Regions from separate parts of the Homo sapiens genome. Here region 2 is linked to region 1. The links come from fine-mapping of genetic effects on gene expression. A gene starts in region 1. The other region holds a variant in brackets. All regions are shown on one strand. Distances are from middle to middle.

Region 1 (11,215 bases):
GTGCTCTGGTCGCCGGGTCAGAGACTCACTGGGGACGCATGTGATTCACACTGGTGCGCTGGCCGCCGGGTCAGAGACTCACTGGGGACACATGTGATTCACACTGGTGTGCTGGCCGCCGGGTCAGAGACTCACTGGGGACGCGTGTGATTCACACTGGTGCGCTGGCCGCTGGGTCAGAGACTCACTGGGGACGTGACTCTGGAACCTTGCAGGCAGCAGCGGGTAGCCATGGGGCAGAGCATGCAGACTCTAGGCACATGTGGGCAAAGACCCGCCAGGTGTGGGGCACAGCAGGGAGCTCAGGGCCATCCCCGACCCCCAGGGTCCCTGTTTCCTTCTAGAAAGAGGATGACAGTCTGGGAAGGAGCTGGGCCTGAGTGTGGGTCAGGAGGCTGGGAAGTGACCATGTGGGGTGAAGGGAGTTCTTGGAAGAACCCTGGGTTCCTGAGGCTGCAGCTCAGGACGTGGGCTCACCTGGCAGAGGTGGCGTGTCTGGCCCCAGGAGCTCTCCTGTGTCCGGCTTCCCCTCCACCTGCCCCGCCATGGGTCATGCAGAGACAACAGCCTTCCTAGTGCTGGCTTTTGATTCTCTCCATCCCTTCTCCCCAGCACTGGGTGGCAGTGGTGCTTGGTCTCCAGAGGTCTGGGTGCCGCCCCCACAGGCTTGCCTGTAGGGGCACCTCCTCTCCCCTGCCCGCAGGCCCCCGACAGATGAGAGAGGCTCCCCACAGGGAGGCTTGTGTCTGCCTGGTGCTACCTTGGTCCTGCCCTGTGCGTTCACCTCCCAGAGTGACTTCTGGGTGACACTCTGATAGTGCAGCCATAAAACCTTATAAAAGGCTTTGCTAAAGTAAATAAGTCACTCCTTGCTATTCCCAAGCCAGTGTTTTGTGTGTCTGCTATCTGGGTTTGTGCTCTTTAAATCACAGTTTATCTAACACCGGGCAATTAAGAATACCACAAGGCTTAAAAAACAATCAGGTTATCAGAGTGTGAAATTATTCCGTTTGGCAACTGAGACGAACCCGAACAGCTGCCCGGAGTGGAGGCTCCTCGTGTTGTCTCTTGACTACGGTGCCTCTGGCTCCAGGGGGAGGTGACCCTGAGGAGAGGGTGGCAGCAACGCAGAGTCCCGGGCCTGCCAGCATGCTCAGCAGCCAGCGCCCGCCATCCCTTCTCCAGCAGCGGGTGGGGGTGCCATGCACACCCTTACCTGGCCTCTCATAGCATGGACCTCTTCGGGCCCGGTTTTTCAGGTGTGCATGTGTCTGGCAGGCACGGCGGTGTGAATCCAGTGGCCTGAGGGCTGTGGGCTGCAGGCCCAGGCCCTTGTGCTGCCTGGAGCCCATCTTCTCAGTGTTCACTGGGGTTGCTGCTGGAGGCCGGGTGGGGCAGGATGATCCAGCAGGTGTCTCAGTGAGGAGCTGAAACTGTATAACTTTCCCTCATCAAAGTTGCAGTTTAATTTTGTGTCAGGTTTAGTTTCATCTCCTTGTATCTGACCCTAATTTTACGGAGTTGGAAGATCTTTCCCTGCGTGTGAATTTTTTAAGAAACAGTTTGGGACAGGTGCGGTGGCTCATGCCTATAATCCCAGCACTGGGAGGCTGAGGCAGGTGGATCATGAGGTCAGGAGTTTGAGACCACCCTGACCAACACAGTGAAACCCCATCTCTACTAAAAATACAAAAATTAGCCGGGTGTGGTGGCGCATGCCTGTAATCCCAGCTACTCAGGAGGCTGAGGCAGGAGAATCGCTTGAACCTGGGAGGCAGAGCTTGCAGTGAGTCGAGATCGCGCCACTGCACTCCAGCCTGGGCGACAGAGCGAGACTCCTTCTCAAAAAAAAAAAAAAAAAAACAACAAAAAAAAACCAATTTGGTTAGACCCGTGAAGGGCAGCTTCAAGTTAATGATCTGGGGTAATTATTTCTGGATCAGCCGAGGCCCTGATCCTCAGGCCTTCTTGAGGGGAGCACCAGGGCTGCGGGTCAGGGATGAAGCTGATGGCCCTGAAGCCGTTCCCCTGCCCCAGAATACCGTCCTGCAGCCACTCACTCTGGGTTCACGTCCTTCTGCTGGAACAGGCTGTTTTGGAGTCAGCGGAAGATCACCAAGGCCAGGGAGTGGTTCCACCGCACTGTGAAGATTGACTCGGACCTGGGGGATGCCTGGGCCTTCTTCTACAAGTTTGAGCTGCAGCATGGCACTGAGGTGAGGCCCCTCGACAGACCGCCGCTCAGTGCCTTCTGGGACTGTGGCGGGGAGTTCCGCCAGCCCTGGGGGCTCTAGGAGGTGGCCACGGCCAGCGTGACTCTGCCCGGGGTCGGGAGGATGGACCGGGTGTGTGGGGCACAGAATCCTCGACACCTCCCCACAAGGCAGTCTCTGCCTCCACATCCGTTTTCTGGTTATAGCCTCACAGCTCCACACCCTGGAATTGAGGCACCCTGTCCGTTAGGGTGGCCTGTCTGCTGGAGTATTTTAACGAGTTATTTGCTGGCTGGAGCCTGGGCTCACTTTAGGAATGGGAATGGAGTTGGCCTTTTTCTTGGGCCTGAGCCTGAGTGTGGCTTTCTAGGACAGCCTGGGCAGCAGCCCCTCTGCTCCCACCCGCCCCGCTAGAGCCAAGCGTTGTCTGAGCTGTGCTGGAGGCAGTCAGGCTGTCCTGGTCCTCCCTGGAAAGTGTTGCCAGCCCACGTGAACCCTAACTCCTTGTTTGGAGAAGGCAGACGTGAGCACTTGTGTGAGGCACAGACATGGGGAGCCTGGCTCAGTTCCTCATCTGTGGGCTGAGGCTGGTGGGGTCCATGCTCCTCAGGAGGTGGGGCTCCTTTGAGGAACACACCTGAAAGAGCCTTGCCTTCCGGTGCAGGGCCTGTGCCCTCTGGCCCGCCAGTTGGGGTTGGTGCTGCCAGGGCCAGGTCTGCAGGGGCCAGGCGAGAAGCAGGCGAGGTCCGGGGAGTAGCGTGGGAGGACCCCTGCCTGACGTGCCCTGTGGTCCCCCCAGGAGCAGCAGGAGGAGGTGAGGAAGCGCTGTGAGAGTGCAGAGCCTCGGCATGGGGAGCTGTGGTGCGCCGTGTCCAAGGACATCGCCAACTGGCAGAAGAAGATCGGGGACATCCTTAGGCTGGTGGCCGGCCGCATCAAGAACACCTTCTGATTGAGCGGTTGCCATGGCCGGTCTCCGTGGGGCAGGGTTGGGCCGCATGTGGAAGGGCTCTGAGCTGTGTCCTCCTTCATTAAAAGTTTTTATGTCTCGTGTCAGAACAGGCAGCCTGCTGGTTTTCTCTGGGGCCCTTCTCTGGCTCCTGCTTCTGCTGCCCCAGTCTGGCCTGTCCTGGCCTGTCCCATGCCGTCCTGGGGTGGCTGTGATCGCCCTTGCTTGGACAGAAGCCTCTTGCAGACAGCCGGTGTCTCACAGAGGAGGCACTGTGGAGGTGCCCGGGTTCCCCAAGACTGTGGAGAAGGTGGTAGGGGTGCAGATGTTCTGGCCAAAAGCCCTGTGAGGACAGCTGGAGACAGTGGGGACCAAGCTGCATGCAGGACGCAGGTGCTCGCAGGAGCCTGGCAGCCGCCTGCAAGGGTCTTGGTCAGGGGACAGCTGGGGCCTCCCTGGGGTCTGAGTGCAAACAGGAGAACCCAGCTCTGCGCAGGGCCTCTCCACACAGCCTCCCGGGCCCCTCAGGCATGTGCTGAGTGACAGTGTCACCAGTAAGAGGCGTTCTTTCTTTTGGAGGTGAGTTCATTTTTTTATTTTTGAGACAGTCTCGCTCTGTCGCCCAGGCTGGAGTGCAGTGGCACGATCTCGGCTCACTGCAACCTCTGCCTCCTGGGTTCAAGCAATTCTCCTGTCTCAGCCTCCCGAGTAGCTGGGACTACAGGCGCCCGCTGCCAAACTCCTGACCTCAGGTGATCCATCTGCCTCAGCTTCCCAAAGTGCTGGGATTACAGGCGTGAGCCACCGCACCCGGCCGTGAGTTTATCTTTGCTAATTTATCATTCGCAGTTTAACCCTAAAGCCCTTGTAATGGTTCTCATCTCCAGGTTGAACAGTGATGGTTCTCATCTCTAGGTTGAACGTTGATCACCCGAGAGACTTGGCTTCTCTTCAGCCTTAGCTGTGTAAGGATAAAGGACGTCCTCAGGCCTGGGATCATGTGTGTGCATTCAGTTGGGAGCCAGCTGGTTCTTGTGTAGGCCGGGGCTAGAGACATCTGGCTGGAGGTCATGGCTGGCCCAGAGGGTGTGGGTGGACAGTCGTTGAGGCCAGCGGGCGGGGAGGAGGGCGCTGTCATGTGGGCTGAGGAGGCTGCTGGAGAGCAGCTGTCCCTGGATGTTCCTTGTGAGAGGGGAGCCCTGGAGGGTCCCGGCCTGTCTTGTGGTACCGATGGCAGGGCCTGTGGTGGTGGTCAGTCACTGACCCACAGCTCTGCCCACCTGCACATGGGGGCCTGTGCTAGGCCTTGTGGTCTGCCTGCCCTGCTCCTGACGAGTGAGAATGGCTGGGGTGGGAGATCCCTGCCTGCACGTGGGGCGGTCCTGGTAGACCAGAATGTGGGTGTGGGTCCCCCTTCCCTGTGGTTCTGGGGACCTTGAGGACATGGTCAATCCCGGGCAAGGGACCTGCCACCCCTGTATGGGGTCAGGAACTGCTGGTTGGTCTCTGCTGGGCAGGCAACCTGGGGTCCAGCTCAAATCGTTGGAATGTGGAAGTCCTTCCTCTCGCCCCGTCCTGAGGAGCAGCTGCAGGAGCTTCATGAGTGTTTTCACTGGAACTTGTGGAGGAGTTTCCTTTGATCCCTCATGGAGAGACGGAAGCATGAGGGAGCCCTCAACATTTATTCTGAAGATGAAGAGAGTCCTGCAGCTTTTTGGAGTTTGTGAAGTCAGCCCGGCCCTGTACAGATGTGGAAACCGAGGCCCAGGAAGTTTGTGAGCCAGCCCGGCCCTGTACAGGTGTGGAAACCGAGGCCCAGGAAGTTTGTGAGCCAGCCCGGCCCTGTACAGATGTGGAAACCGAGGCCCAGGAAGTTTGTGAGCCAGCCTGGCCCTGTACAGATGTGGAAACCGAGGCGTAGGAAGGAAGCCCTTCTCTGACCTCAGAGCTGAAATGGCCAGTGCTGGGTGGGCATTGAGGGGTCACACAGAAAAGAATGTTTCAGGCCATGTTCAGGGGATACTTCCTGCAGGGCCCTTGGAAAGTTCCGGAGCGCTTACATTGTCCATGTGTGAGTGTCTCCTCTTTCTTGCCTGTGTGGGGTTTTCTCAAATGCTTTGAGTTGGCCAAACCACAGTTGTGCGCCACTTAACAGTGCGGATACATTCTGAGAAAAACCTCGTTAGGTGATGTCGTCTTGCAAACATTAAAGAGTGCATTTACACAAGGCTGGCAGGCACGGCCTCCTGCACCCCCAGGCTGTGTGCCCGGGTGCCAGAGCCTGGGGCTCCTGGGCTGCAGACCTGCACAGCCTGTCACAGCATTTAATCACATCCAAACACGGAAAAGGCAAAAACGTAAAGATGCAGTGTTACAATCCTAGGGGACTCCTGTCACCTGTGTGGTCTGTTCTTGACTATTGTGAGTCACTGACTTTTCCCCCTGGGAAACTACCTTAACTTGTCTTCAACTGAAATTTTTTCAGCCTGCAAAGATGAGTTGTGCCTCAGAGGTTGCTCGTGTTCTGAGGTGCCTCTTCACCACTGCCTGTCAGGCTGCTAACCAGAGTGCCCCAGACCACAGCAGAAGCGACAGCAGCCAAGGATCGGGGGAGCCCACCCTGCTCCTGGGTATCTTTACGGCAGGCAGCAGAGTAACAGCCTCAGACTTACCTCTTCAGCCAGAGACCCCTCAGCCCAGGAGGAGTGAGGCCGGGCCAGCAGCGGGGGCCCGGGAAGCCCCATGTCTTGGGACCTGCTGGGGCAGGGCCCCCTGGATGTCAGGCTGCAGGTCCGGCAGCTGGGGAGGGGATGAGGGCCTCCCACCAGCTCTGCCCATCAGCCAGATCCCTGGGAGAGGCAGCACTTGCTGGCCACAGAGTCGGCCCCAGTCTCACCTGGCTCCCCTCCCCCACCAGCTGGGCCCTGCACTGCCCCAGCCCACGCGGCGCCTCACCCCTCCTTGACAGAACAGTATCTCTGGGACGGACAAGTTAATCCAAGACCCACAGTAGCCCTGGATCCCCTGGGAGAGGTGGCTGCCCAGCTCCAGGGCCAGGTTAATTGAAGTGATAGGGAGTGGAGAGAGGGAGGGGGCAGGGCTGGGATTGCGTGGCCTTTCCTTCCCTCTCCTGCTCCCTCCCTCAGCTTGGAGGAGCCAACTTCAAAAGCCTCCGCCTGGCCTGCCCCTCTGCAGTCCTCCAGGCAGCCTGTCCAGGGAAGCGGTTGGCTGGTGTTGGACCTGGTGCGGCAGTGCACACCCTGCCCAAGGACCCCAGGATCATGTGCGTGGCCTGCTGGCGGGAGTGAGGGAGGGCAAGACCCTGAAAGGCCCATGGTGAGCAGCTGTGGGCCTCCTCTAGGGAGGGGGCTTACTTGGGTGGAGGGGCTGGGGGTACACACAGCTCAGGAGACACTGCTTGTTCCCCTGAGCCCCACCAGGAAATCTCCGGTTGGCTCTGGTCACTGCGTCCCTGTGGGTGGCACTGGGTGCATGTGCCCTGGCTTCTGGCAGTTGGGGGAGGGGGGCTCCTGGGTGCCGGGCAACCCTGTTCTAAGCTGGGCTGAGGCTTGAGCCTGGAAGTGGTACTAACAGGCCAGTTGGGACTCCCAGGGCAGCCAGTCTGCCCCACCTGGGTGGGACACAGCAGGTGCTGGACATCCTTGCAGCTCCAGCTGGCCTGCTCAGGAGTCAGGCTCTGGTTCTCGCTATGACCTCTGACCCAGAGCAGGCAGAGGGAATGACGTGGCAATTCTGAGCCCACCAAGTTGGCTGTGGCGTGTGTGGTTGGGGGGGTCAGGTTTCAGGAAGGGGCCACAGCAAGCCATCTGCTCTTCCAGCCATTGCTGCTTTGTGCTCTGAGCAGGAGCTGCCACCGCCCACCAGGCCCCCAGCTCTATGCAAGGGTTGGGGTGCTGCTTGTTCAGGCTCCCCTGACAGGGCTAGGAAGCCGAGTCGAGTCCTCTTATCTTGGTTGGGTTCGCATGATTAATTTCCAGCCCTAGATCTGCTGTCTGACTCCATCCTGGGGGCCCAGGGGAAGGGTTGGGGCTGGCCCCTTTTGGGTGGCTGGGAACCTGGGGGCCGTCAGCTGTCTCCTTGATGTTTGGGCTTTATCCCTGCGGGCGCAGGCCCTCCATTTTGGGTCGGGGGAGGCCTGTGGCACAGGCTGCCCGGAGGGATGGCGTGGGGCGGCTGGTACAGGCAGAGGGGCCTTTTGCGACTGTTGGTTGGGGCTGGATGTGGTGGCTCCTTCCTCCTCTATAGCTTCTGGGTGTCCCCCTAGCTTTCCCCTTCCAATAGGGTGTGGCTTGGAGCTCTGAGCCCCTGCCCCAGTTGGGTTGGGGGTACAAGGAGTCCCCAGTTCCCACGTCTCTGTGAGCTAACCCAGAGGGCGCCAGTATGGGAGGTGTGGAGTTGAATGGGCATGGCCATGAGTGAGACAGGCTGTACTGGGACAACTTCCTACTGTACCCCCAAGAGCCTGCAGACCAGCCCCACTAGAGCTGTACGGGGCTGGTGGGGGGCCCTGCTCTGTGCGGTCCTGAGGGTGCTCCACCCCTTGCTGGCCCCACTCCCACGTGGACCACAGAGCCAGGCTCTCCTGACTCTGGGCCTGCCCCCTCTATCTCCTGATGGGTTCTTCAGGACTCAGTGACATCGCCTCCCAGCCGACATCACTCACCCCTTTCACATCTTTGCAGGGAGCATAGAACTGTCTGGTTTGCAGACCTATCTCTTGTGTCTCCTGATTTATCCCGCCAGGCCTGTGCCTACAGCCTTTCTTGATTGGTGACACGTCCATTTCATTCGCTCAGAGATCCCGTGGGGTGGGGCAGGGGGTGGGGCTTCTACGGAAACAAAGTGCAGGTGGGCTGGCTGCTCCCTGTGCTGGGAACACCCCCCAGGCCTAACCCCAACCTGCTGTCTCCTCCAGGTACCCCCTAAGCCTGCACTCTGGGCGCTCCTGCTGGCGCTGCTGGGGACCGCGCCAAGCCGCGCCTATTCCCCGGCCTGCAGCGTCCCCGACGTGCTCCGCCACTATCGCGCCATCATCTTCGAGGATCTGCAGGCCGCCGTGAAGTGGGGCGGGGCGGGGGCCGAAAAGACCAGGCCAGGCTCCAGACACTTTCATTTCATACAGAAAAACCTGACTAGACCCGGGAGCTCGGGACGGCGGGGACGGCCTCGGGCCTCCTGTGGCGCCCAGAAGGTATGGAGGAGGCGCCCCTACCCAAGCTCGCCGGCCTGCTCCTCTCTCAGTTTCCCCCCACCCCCACCCCGCCTTCCTCCCTTCCCTCCCCAGGAGCACAGTATCCTCCTGTCCATCTCGTCCCTGGGTCGGACCCTGCGCGGGGCGGTGGCCGGGGGCCGCCGCGGGGCCCTGGAGAGAGCTGCTTGGACCGTGGCTGTGCGCACCGAGGCGGTGATGCGGCGCCACTGCAGGACGCTGCGCCAGGTGTGCGTCCCTGAGTGCACCCAGAGCCAGACCTCCCTTAACCCCCACAGGGCCGCCGCGCGTCCCGGGGCTCCACGGCCCTAGGCTGAAGTCGGGCTGGGTCGCGTCTCCCTTCCCGGGCCGGGCCGGGCGCGGGGGCCGTGCGCATTCGCTGACCGCCCTGTCCCCGACAGCGGAGCCGGCGGCCCAAGATGCGCCCTGCCCGGCGTCGCGGCGGCCGAAGGCAGCTCCTGCTGCGCGCCCTGGACGCCGTCGCCACCTGCTGGGAGAAGCTCTTCGCGCTGCGCGCCCCGGCCTCCAGGGACTCCTAGCGCGGCCCGTCCTGGCCCTGCGCGGGGAGGAGAACCAGCGGGGCCGCGGCAGAGCCTGGAGACGCGCCTCGTTCTGTAGACTTGTTGGTGACCTCGGCCCCTCGCTCGACGCAGCCCGCGCTCCCCGGAGGGCCCAGGACTTGGAGAAGGGAGCGCGCCTGGCCGCCGCTGGGTCACGGAGGAGGCCCGCCCTCCACGCGCCGAAGGCCTCAATAAACGGAGCTGGCGCTGCGGGTCCGGCACTCCCTTCGCCTGCCTCTCTGTGGGCCTAGGACCGCCCCGGGATCTGCGCCTCGGTGGCGGGGGGCGGTGGAGGGGGAATGCGGAGACCCGCACTTCCTGTGGCACCTGGACGGGGCGGAGCCGCCGCTCCCAGCCTCGGGCAGCAGAGGGCGGACGCGGGACGCTGGGCGCGCTCCGGCTCTGTCAGCGGCTCCCGGCTGGGCGGAGGGCAGAGCGGGGGACTCCTGGGGCCCCTAAAACGTCACGTATCCGTCCTGCTCCACTTTGGACCGGGGCCGGGGGTGGAAATTGAGGGGAGGGGAAGGCTGGACTTGGTGAATTCGGAGCAAAACAACCGGATAAAGGAAACGGGCCCGAAGGGAAGCGGGAGCTGCGGGCCTTGGCTGTGAGCTTGGCCAGGCTATTTCCTGCTGCCTCCGGAGGGGTGACCACGGCCTGGGCTCAGAGACTGCCCAGCCCCCTCTGCAGGACTGGCCAGGCTGGGGCCCGCTTTCTGGCCCCTGGAACCCTCCATTTGCTGGGGGACTGTCCCCTGGTTCCCCCATCTGATGCGCAGGTCTGGGAGTCTGTCACCCCCCTCCCCCAATCTCGGCCCATGGAGGAGCAGGGGAGGTAAAGTACCTGACACCTGTTACCCTCCCCTTCCCGGAAAGGCCGCGAGCAGGCTGTGCCTCTGGCATTCTGTGGGATCAGGGGCAGCAGCAGAAGAAAGAAGTAACCTCCCAAGCTGACCCTGACCCAGCCCCACACTCTGTGTTAATGTATTTAGTCTGTGCAACGGGAGCTACTGTCTCTGTTTTATAGATGGGGAAACTGAAGCACGAGGAGGCTGAGACTTGCCCCAAATCACAGCCAGCAATGTAAGAGCTGGCCTCAGACCCAGGCCCAGGGCATGGGATCTGCCACATGTCCCCTGCCTGGAGGCTGGGGGCCAAGCTTCCTGGACTTCAGAGCCTTGGATTCCCCTGCAGAGTTAGCACTTCTGACAGAGTCCCTGGCCATGCTCTGAGCACAAACACCTAGCAAGCATTCCCAGCCCTAGTTCTGCATTGCCTGCTCCGTGGGGGCCAGTGGGGGCAAGTGTGGGAGGGATGAGGGGGAGATGCAGGGTGCAGGAGCCCCAGCTGGAGCCAAAGCACTTGAGGGGGGTGCTTGGACTTATCCCGAGGCAGCGGAAGGTCTTTGGTGAAAGAGGGATGTTAGAGTTGGAATCTAGAAAGGTTCCCGTGACTTGTGTGGAGGGTTGGTGAGGACAAAGGGGTGGAGAGAGGTCCAGGCTGCCCAGGGTCCTGGCTGGAGTACCTGGGTGGGTCTGTGGGGAGCCTGAACATGGGAAGCACTAAAGGGGGAGTGGGTCGGTTTGAGGGCCCTGAGGGAGCTGGGGAACTGTGGACGTGGCTGGGCTCAGCTGGGCGTGCTGGTGTATGGAGCATAAGGTATGGACAGCCGAGCATGGCTGGGAGGCAGCTGAGTTGGGGCCTGGAGAGAGTCCAGGGTTCTGGGCTGGGCTCAGGGACAGGATGGGGACAGGCCCTCCATGAAGGCTCCCACTGTCACATTGCCCCAGGGGCAGCTGACTTTTGCACTTGGACCTGCCCCAACCCCTGGGCCATGGGGAGGGCACTCCTCTCCTGTCCATGCATGACCTCCTGGGCGGCCCCTTGGCTCCTGCCCACCCGCAATGCTCCCGTTCTGCTGTTGAGAGCAGTCAGAGGCTGGGGATGTGGGTGGGCAACAGAAACAGCTCCCTCTACCCTGACTGAGAAAGGTTCAAACAAACCACAGCCTCTTGGGGGCAGGAGGAGGAACAGAGGCCTCAGGATTTTGGGGACACATGTCGGTGCCTAGTCCTGGACCACGACCACGTGGGTGGGTGAGAAGTCCTGCATCCTGGCCCATGGCTCCTCTCCCTCATGCAGAATGGGAGCAAGGTGGGCTTTGGGCTTCTGGGACAAAGTTCACTTGTCCAGGGTGGGGACAGCCCAACCAGACTAGGTCTAGGGGCATGTGTGGAGCTACACGAAGCGGCCCAGAGCTACCG
Region 2 (9,801 bases), 49 kb before region 1:
TCTATGGCCGCGCAGTCTGAAAGACGCTTGGTGGATCGGCTTAATCCCTGCAGGAAGCAACGGGCTTTGGGGTCAGGACATACCTGTGTGTGCACCCTGCTTGCCGCCTAGATGTGACACATTGACTCTCAGCCCAGTGTTTTGGTCTGTAAGATGGGTAATGCTGTATACGGTCTGCAGTGAGGAGTAGAGGAATCTGACGTGTAGTGGAAACACGCGACCACCTTCCTCAGGTCGGGCTGACACTCCCCCCCCCCGCCCGCCCGCCCGCCCCGCCTTAAGCGTGCCTGGGTCCTCTATGCCTGCAACACAGATGACCACCGTGCGTTGCTGGATAAGTGAGCAGTCGTTATTATCCTATTTGGCTATTCATTTGATGAGGAACACTACTGGGTTTTTCTTGGTGGTGGTATTATATTGGAATCTGTGGGGCACACACAAGCTCACTAAGGAGGGTTTGCTATTACCATAAATAAGTACGTAAAGAGGACCAGATTTAGAACCCAGTGCTTAATGGAGAGTAGCATTGGAGCCAAGTTTAGTAAGAGAGCTGGACTTAGGGCTGTAGAAACGGTGACGATAGAAGAGAAACTGACATTCTGCGTGTGGGAGTTCAAAAAAAGTGAGGCAAGGAGGAAGCCCAGGGAACAGGAGGGAGTCCAGTGTGAGTGGAATGTACAGCGAATAGAATAGAGCTCAGGAGGTTGGAGGGGCCTTGAGCGTCAGGCTAGAGCTCCTGGAGACGTTAGAAAGATCATGACCCTTCAGAATTATTATTATTATTATTATTTTTTGAGACAAAGTCTTGTTCTGTCGCCCAAGCTGGAGTGCAATGGTGCGATCTCAGCTCCCTGCAATCTCTGCCCCCCGGGTTCAAGCAGTTCTCTGCCTCAGCCTCCTGAGTAGCTGGGATTATAGGTGCCCGCTACCACGCCCGGCTAATTTTTGTATTTTTAGTAGAGACAGGGTTTCACCATGTTGGCCAGGGGGGTCTTGAACTCCTGACCTCATGATCCACCCGCCTCCGTCTCCCAAAGTGCTGGGATTACAGGCGTGAGCCACCACGCCCGGCCCAGAATTTTTTACTCAGAGCTGTGTTTTGGGAAGAATCATCTGGCAGAGCATGGGTTGAAGTAGAGGAAGGCTAAAGGCAGGGAGAGGTAACTTGGTTTCCAGCTGTGATGGGAGTCATAGTCTGGGAAGGAGGGATTTTGAAAGTGGATTCATTAGTACTTGGGGACAGACAGGATGGGGAAAGTGGGAGAGGGAGGCAAAAATTACATCATGGTCCCGTGGCATCTGGGACAGCTGTTATCAGCTGAAACCCCCCAGAGCAGCTGTAAGGTGGGCACGGAAGAGCTCAGTGTGGGCCAAGTTGGGTTTAAGGGCCTGGTTGGATGTGGAGGGGGAGATGATCGAAGCCTTAGGGTGGAGAGAGATTGCCTTGGTAACATCATCAGGGTAGGCTGAAACTTTCAGGTAAGCAGAGAAGATCAGAAGTGTTTGAGACTGCAGTTCATTGTCACCAGGATCTTTGGAGGTTTCCCAAAGGTGTTAGAAAAAGAGGTGTTAGTAAGTGATAACCAGGAGTGGAGAAGAGCACAGGAACAGAGTTATTCAGACACCCGGTGTCTTGGGGGTCTCCTGCAGCGCCACTGGCTTCACCACGCGGTCAGACATTGGGCCCGCCCGTGATGCAAATGACCCTGTGGATGATCGCCATGCACCCCCAGGCAAGAGAACCGTTGGGGACCAGATGAAGAAAAATCAGGCTGCTGACGATGACGACGAGGATCTAAATGACACCAATTACGATGAGGTGAGATGTGTCCGGCTTTCGTGGCTCCTCCAGCCAGTCTCTGGGAGCAGCTGACCTAACCAGTGTGTGTTGGTGTCTGTAATGAATGGCTTGGAGTGGCTCATGCATTTAAATTTTAGCTATTCATGGAACATCTTTACTGAGAGTGAGAGGGAGCAGGAAAAACACGGAGAAATGTGCACTTTTTGTCCCTCAGAAGAGATGTTCTTGCAGGTGTTAGGACCACTGCCTTGGCATTTTCTATTGCCCAGTCTTTTTTTTTTTTGAGACGGAATTTCGCTCTTGTCGGAAGAGATGTTCTTGCAGGTGTTAGGACCACTGCCTTGGCATTTCCTATTGGCCAGTCTTTTTTTTTTGAGATGGAATTTCGCTCTTGTCGGAAGAGATGTTCTTGCAGGTGTTAGGACCACTGCCTTGGCATTTCCTATTGGCCAGTCTTTTTTTTTTTTTTTTTTTGAGACGGACTTTCGCTCTTGTTGGCCAGGCTGGAGTGCAGTGGTGTGATCTCAGCTCACTGTGACCTCTGCCTCCCCATTTCAAGCGATTCTCCTGCCTCAGTCTCCAAGTAACTGGGATTACAGGCATGCGCCACCATGCCTGGCTAATTTTGTATTTTTAGTAGAGACAGGGTTTCTCCATGTTGGTCAGGCTGGTCTCGAACTCCTGACTTCAGGTTGTCCGCACGCTTCGGCTTCCCAAAGTGTTGGGATTACAGGCGTGAGCCACTGCGCCTGGCTGCCAGTCTTTAATGATAAAAACTTAAAGTGGAATTGGTGATAGTATTTGCTTTTTTTAGCTTTAGTGATTGCCCTCTAAACAGACATCTAAAGAAAAACTTCAGCTGACTGAATACCGATTAACTGTCTTCTAACAGATGACATTTTTCCTCTGAGGAAAATTTTTAAAAATAATTTTAGTTTTGAGGCCAGGTGCGGTAGCTCACACCTATAATCCTGGCACTTTTGGAGGCCGAGGTGGGCGGATCATGAGGCCAGGATATCGAGACCATCCTGTTTAACATGGTGAAACCCCGTCTCTACTAAAACTACACAAAAATTAGCCGGGCATGGTGGCATGTGCCTGTAGTCCCAGCTACTCGGGAGGCTGAGGCAGAAGAATGCTGTGAACCCGGGAGGCGGAGGTTGCGGTGAGCCAAGATTGCGCCACTGCACTCCAGCCTTGGCGAGAGTGCGAGACTCTGTCTCAGAAAAAAAAAAAAAATTAGTTTTGAAATAATTTTAAATTTGCAGGAATTTGCAAAAATAGTGCCCCCCCAAAAAAAAGTTTCTGCATGTCTTTCACCAAGCTTCTCCCGATGTTACATGACCTTAGTGCAGTTATTGAAACGAAGGAGTTAACATTGACACAGTACTATTAACTAATTTGTCAGTCGTATTTGCATTTCATGTTTTTCCATGAATGTCCGCTTTCTGGCTTAGGCTTAGTCCAGGATCCCCCATTGCATTTCGTCATGTCTCCTTGGTCCCTTCCAATTGGGGGTCTCCTCTGTCTTCCATGCCCTTGACGCTTGAAGAGTAGTCACCAGTTATATGGTAGACTGTCCCTTGATTTGGCTTCGTTGGCTGAAGAAAATAATTTAGCAAGTATTTCACAAGTAGAGATCTCCGTTTCGCTGGTGGGGATGGTGTTGAAGGAAAAGCTGACCTCTACACGTGTTGTTTGCTTCTCAGTTTAATGGCTATGCTGGGAGCCTCTTCTCAAGTGGACCCTACGAGAAAGATGATGAGGAAGCAGATGCTATCTATGCAGCCCTGGATAAAAGGATGGATGAAAGAAGAAAAGAAAGACGGTAAAAGAAATTGTTGCCTTTCACAATATTTATCCAAGTTTAAAAAAAAGTTTTGTGGCCAGGCGCAGTGGCTCACGTGTGTAATCCTAGCACTTTGAGAGGCTGAGGTAGGACGATAGCTAGAGCCCAGGGGTTTGAGACCAGTGTGGGCAACGTAGGGAGACTTAATCTCTACAAATAATTTAAAAATTAGCCAGATGGTACACACCTGTAGTCCCAGCTACTTGGGTGGCTGAGGTGGAAGGACCGTTTAAGCCCAGGAGGTAGAAACTGCAGTGAGCCATGATCATTCCAGCCTGGTTGGCATAGTGAGACCCTGTCTCAAAAAAAAAAAAAAGTTTTGTTTTGAATTGTTTTATATTTGGAGAAAAGTTGCAATAGAGTATGTGTGTCTGCTTAGCTTTTAGGCCACCTGAGGGTCTTGGTCTGTCGTAGCCATGCCTGGATAAGCACTGGGCTGTTACAGAACAGCCTTAGGGCCTGGGGGCTGCAGTGGAGAGCTTAAGAACTCTTAAGTTTTTCCAGAAATCAGCAGAATTTTGTGGATTACTTTTACGATACATCAGGGTTACCATCTTTGAAATGAAAAGGGCCTACTGACTTGATTATTATATGTTGAGTAATTTGCAAATGAATTAAAGATGTTAAATGACACATACAAGCTACCAAGATTGAACCATGAAGAAATCCCAAACCTGAACAGACCAATAAAAGGTAATGAGATCAAAGCTGTAACAGAAAGTGTCCTAGCAGAGAACATCTCAGGATCTGATTGCTTCATTGCTGAATTTTACCAAATATTTGAAGAAGAACTAATACCAATTCTACTCAGACTATTCTGAAAAATAGAGGAGGGAATACTTCCAAACTTATTCTACAGAACCAGTATTACCCTGATACCAAAACCAGACAAAGACACACTGAAAAAAGAAAATGTTAGGTCAGTATCCCTGATGAACACTGATGCAGAAATCAGCAGAATACTAGCAAACCATATTCAACAACACATTAGAAAGATGGTTCATCGGCTGGGCGCAGTGGATCACGCCTGTAATTCTAGCACTTTGGGAGGCCGAGGTGGGCGGATGATGGGTCATCTGAGGTCAGGAGTTCAAGACCAGTCTGGCCAACCTAGTGAAACCCAGTCTCTACTAAAAATACAAAAATTAGCCGGGCATGGTGGGTGGTGTACGCCTATAATCCCAGCTACTTGGGAGGCTGAGGCAAGAGAATCGCTTGAACTCGGGAGGTGGAGGTTGCAGTGAGCCGAGGTCACAACACTGCACTCTAGCCTGGGAGACAAGAGCAAGACTCCATCTCAAAAAAAAAAAAAAAAAAAGATCGTTCATCATGACCAAGTGGCATTTTGCCCAGGGGATACAAGTGCAAGGGTGGTTCAACATATGCAAATTAATCAGTGTTATACATCATATCAACAGAATGAAGGACAAAAACCATATGATCTTTTTTTTTTTTTTTTTGAGACGGAGTCTCGCTCTGTTGCCCAGGCTGGAGTGCAGTGGCGCAATCTCAGCTCACTGCAACCTCCACCTCCTGGGTTCAAGTGATTCTC[C/G]TGCCTCAGCCTCCTGAGTAGCTGGGACTACAGTTGCCCGCCACCACGCCTGGCTAATTTTTTGTATTTTTAGTAGAGACGGGATTTCACTGTGTTAGCCAGGATGGTCTTGATCTCCTGACCTCATGATCCACCTGCCTCGGCCTCCCAAAGTGCTGGGATTACAGGCGTGAGCCACTGCGCCCGGCCTAATCATTTTAATTGATTCTGAAAATGCATTTGATAAGATTCAACATTCCTTGATGATAAAAACTCTCAAAAAACTGCATATAGAAGAAACATACCTCAGGCTGGGTGTGGTGGCTCACGTCTGTAATCCCAGCACTTTGGGAGGCTGAGGCGGGAGGACTGCTTGATCTCAGGAGTTTGAGACCAGCCTAGGCAAGAGGGTAATACCTTTTCTTTACAAAAAAATACAAAAATTAGCCAGGCTTCGTGGCACACACCTGTAGTCCTAGCTACTCAGGAGGCTGAGATGGGAGAATTACTTGAGCCCAGGAGGCAGAGGTTGCAGTGAGCTGAGATCATACCACCACACTTCAGCCTGGGCCACAGAGCGAGACCCTGTCTCAAAAAAAAAAAAAAAAAAAAGGGGGGGGGAGCATAACACAATAAAAGCTATATACAGCTGGATGGGGTGGTTCACGCCTGTAATCACAGCCCTTTGGGAGGCCCAGGCAGGCAGATCATTTGAGGTCAGGAGTTTGAGACCATCCTGACCAACATGGTAAAACCCTGTCTCTACTAAAAATCCAAAGATTAGTTGGGTGTGGTGGCTCAGGCCTATAATTTCAGCTACTCAGGAGGTGGAGGTTACAGTGAGCTGAGATTGTGCCACTGCACTCCAGCCTGGGCAACACAATGAGACTGTGTCGCAAAGAAAAAAAAAAGCCACATATGGTAGGCCCACAGCTCGTATCATACTGAATGGGGAAAAACTGGAACGCAACAAGGATGCCCACTTTCACCACTGTGATTCAACATTGTACTGGAAGTCCTAGCTAGAGCAGTCGGACCAGAGAAATAAATAAAAGGGCATCCAGATTGGAAAAGAAGAAGTTAAATTATCCTTGTTTGCAGATGATATGATCTTATATTTAGAAAACCCTAAAGACTCTACCAAAACACTATTGGAACTGACAAATTGATTAAAGTTGCAGGCTATGCCCCCAGGTGTGGTGGCTCACACCTGTAATCCCAGCACTTTGGGAGGCTGAGGGTGGGTGGATCACCTGAGGTCAGGAGTTTGAGACCAGCCTGGCCAACAAAGAGAAACCCTGTCACTATTAAGAATACAAAAATGGCCGGGCACGGTGGCTCACGCCTGTAATCCCAGCACTTTGGGAGGCCGAGGCAGGTGGATGACTGGAGGTCAGGAGTTCGAGACCAGCCTGACCAACGTGGTGAAACCCTGTCTCTACTAAAAAAATTACAAAAGTTGCCAGGCGCTGGGACTCACGCCTGTAATCCCAGCACCTTGGGAGAGTGAGGTGGGTGGATCACTTGAGGTCAGGAGTTTGAGACCAGGCTGACCAACATAGTGAAACCCTGTCTCTACTAAAAATACAAAAATTAGCTGGGTGTAGTGGCACACGTCTGTAATCCCAGCTACTCAGGAGGCTGAGGCAAGAGAATTGCTTGAACCTAGGAGGCAAATGTTGTAGTGAGCTGAGATTGCACCACTGCACTCCAGCCTGAGTGACGGGGCAAGACTCTGTCTCAAAAAAAAAAAAAACCAAAAAACAAAAATTAGCCGGGTGTGGGGGTGCACGCCTGTAGTCCCAGCTAGTTGGGAGGCTGAGGCAGGAGAATCGCTTGAACCCAGGAGGTCGAGGTTGCAGTGAGCTGAGATTGCACCACTGCACTCCAGCCTGGGTAACAGAGTGAGACTCCATCTTAAAATAAAAGAAAATATCCATACTACCCAAAGTAATTTACAGATTCAATGCAATCCGTATCAAAATACTGGGGACATTATTAACAGATAGTGAAAAAATAGCCAGGTGCAGTGGCTCATGCCTGTAATCCCAACACTTTGGGAGGCTGAGGCAGGTGGATCACTTGAGGTCAGCAGTTCGAGACCAGCCTGGCTAAACCCCATCTCTACTAAAAATACAAAAATTAGTTGGGCATGGTGACAGGTGCCTGTAATCCCAGCTACTTGGGAGGCTGAGGCAGGAGAATCACTTGAACCTGGAAGGCAGAGGTTGCAGTCAGCTGAGATCGTGCCATTGCACTCCGGCCTGGGCAACAGAGTGAGACTCCGTCTCAAAAAAAAAAAAAGAAAAAGAAAAAATAATTCTAAAATGTACATGGAGCCAAAAAAGACCCAGAATAGGCAAAGCTATCCTGAGCAAAAGGAACAAAACTGGGGGAACACTTGACTTCAAATTATACTACAGAGCTGTAGTAACAAAAACAGCATAGTACTGGCAGAAAAACAGACACATAGACCAATGGAACAGAATGGACCCAGAAACAAATAGGTACCTCTACAGTGAACTCATTCTTGACAAATGTACCAGGAATATTTATTGGGGAAAAGACAATCTCTTCAATAAACGGTGCTGGGAAAACTGGATATCTATATACAGAAGAATGAAACTAGACCCCTCTCTGTCACCACATACAAAAATCAAATTAAAAGACTTTAAGACCTCAAGCTGAAACTACTAGAAGAAAACATTGGAGAAACTCTACAGGACATTGGACTAGGCAAAGATTTCTTGAGTAATACCCCACAAGCACAGGCAACGAACGGAAGCCAGGTGTGGTGGCTCGCTCCCGTGAGCCAAGAGTGCGCTACTGCACTCCAGCCTGGGCCACAGAGACTGTCTCAAAAAGGAAAAAAATAAAAAGTTCTCATTATAGAATATTAGGAAAATAAGAGTAAGTATGGGTAAAAGCATAACATTTATTCATAAGTCTAGAAAGTAACAGTTAACATTTTGGCTCATTTCCTCTTTCTGTTGCTTTTTTTTATCTTGGCTCACTGCAACCTCTGCCTCCCGGGTTCAAGCAATTCTCCTGCCTCAGCCTCCCAAGTAGCTGGGATTACAGGTGCCTGCCACCACGCCTGGCTAGTTTTTGTATTTTAGTAGAGACGGGGTTTCACCATGTTGGCCAGGATGGTCTCAAACTCCTGGCCTTGTGCTCCATCCACCTCGGCCTCCCAAAGTGCTGGGATTACAGACGTGAGCCACTGCGCCCAGCTCTGTTGCTTTTTATACATGTAATCATAACTTCCTGTGATGTATGTAGAATGTTTTATTTTTTGAAGATAATTTTAGAATAGTAAAATATAGTTCTTCTGGAATTTTATTTATTTTTTATTTTTTTGAGTCTCCCAGGCTCAAGTGATTCTTCTGCCTCAGCCTCCCAAGTAGCCGGGATTATAGGCACGCGCCACCACACCTGGCTAATTTTTGTGTTTTTAGTAGAGACAGGGTTTTACCATGTTGGCCAGGCCGGTCTTGAACTCCTGACCCCAAGTGATCCACCCGCCTCAGCCTCCCAAAGTGTTGGAATTACAGGTATGAGCCACCGTGCCCAGTCTTGCCACACACTTTAAACAACCAGATCTTACGTGATGTAAACTTGCTGCCTCGAGGACAGCACCAGGCCATCAGGGGTCTGCCCTCAAGACTCAAGTGGCCTCCCACCAGGCCCCACCTCAAACATTGGGAATTATAATTCAGCATGAGATTTCATGGGGACACAGATGTAAACCATATCCTTTGGCCTCCCAGAGTGCTGGGATTACAGACATAAGTCAATGTGCCTGGCCTGGACATCTTTTTAGAAGCTCGTTATTAAATCATTGTGCATAAATTTTATACCTATAGTAATTAAACGTGAATGGCATTGCATTTCACTTTTTTTTTTTTTTGGATACAGGATCTTACTCTGTCACCCAGGGTGGAGCGCGGTGGCTTGATTATAGCTCCCTGTAACCTTCAATTCCTGGCTCAAGCGATTCTCCTGCTTCAGCCTCCCAGGTAGCTGGGATTACAAGCACGTGCTACCACACCCAGCTAATTTTTCTTTTTTCTTTTTTTTTTTTTGAGATGGAGTCTCACTCTATTGCCCAGGCTGGAGTGCAATGGCGCAACCTCGGCTTACTGCAACCTCCGCCTCCAGGGTTCAAGTGATTCTCCTGCCTCAGCCTCCCAAGTGGCTGGGATTACAGGCATGCACCGCCACGCCCGGCTGATTTTTGTAGAGATGGGTATTTTTAGTAGAGACGGGGTTTCACCAATGTTAGCCAGGCTGGTCTTGAACTCCTGCCCTTGTGATCTGCCTGCCTTGGCCTCCCAAGGTGCTGGGATTACAGGCTTGAGCCACCACGCCAGGCTCACACCCAGCTAATTTTTGTCTATGTTGCCCAGGCTGGTCTTGAACTCCTGGCCTCAAGTGATCCACCTGCCTCCCCTAACCTTGGCCTCCCAAAGTGCTAGGATTACAGGCATGAGTTACTACACTCAGCCCTACATTTTAAAAATTGATTGGAACCTCCAGGGTTAATGCATTTTAAAAAACATCAGGCTGGGTGCAGTGGCTTACATGTGTAATCCTAGTACCTTGGGAGGCCAAGGCAGG

The links.
Region 2: its variant is fine-mapped to the expression of C20orf204 in blood mononuclear cells (TOPMed, PIP 0.93).

Annotation. Positions count from the first base shown.
Region 1 is chr20:64,029,829-64,041,043 of GRCh38, forward strand. C20orf204 (chromosome 20 open reading frame 204) reads left to right here and starts at 6,354. Exons shown (of 4, transcript NM_001387010.1): 1 at 6,354-6,498; 2 at 8,099-8,374; 3 at 8,468-8,620; 4 at 8,794-9,173. The coding sequence starts at 6,496. The coding sequence ends at 8,931. PRPF6 (pre-mRNA processing factor 6) reads left to right here. Exons shown (of 21, transcript NM_012469.4): 20 at 2,090-2,216; 21 at 3,013-3,272. The coding sequence ends at 3,165. RefSeq lists enhancers at 5,517-5,746, 6,634-7,227, 6,697-6,796, 7,228-7,821 and silencers at 8,467-8,536, 8,637-8,956, 9,147-9,426.
Region 2 is chr20:63,981,397-63,991,197 of GRCh38, forward strand. It overlaps PRPF6 (pre-mRNA processing factor 6), which reads left to right. Exons shown (of 21, transcript NM_012469.4): 2 at 1,651-1,819; 3 at 3,511-3,629. Among named protein-coding and RNA genes, the nearest start is that of PRPF6, 5.2 kb to the left of the region's middle. RefSeq lists a silencer at 1-30. The variant C/G (reference allele first, on the strand shown) is at 5,203.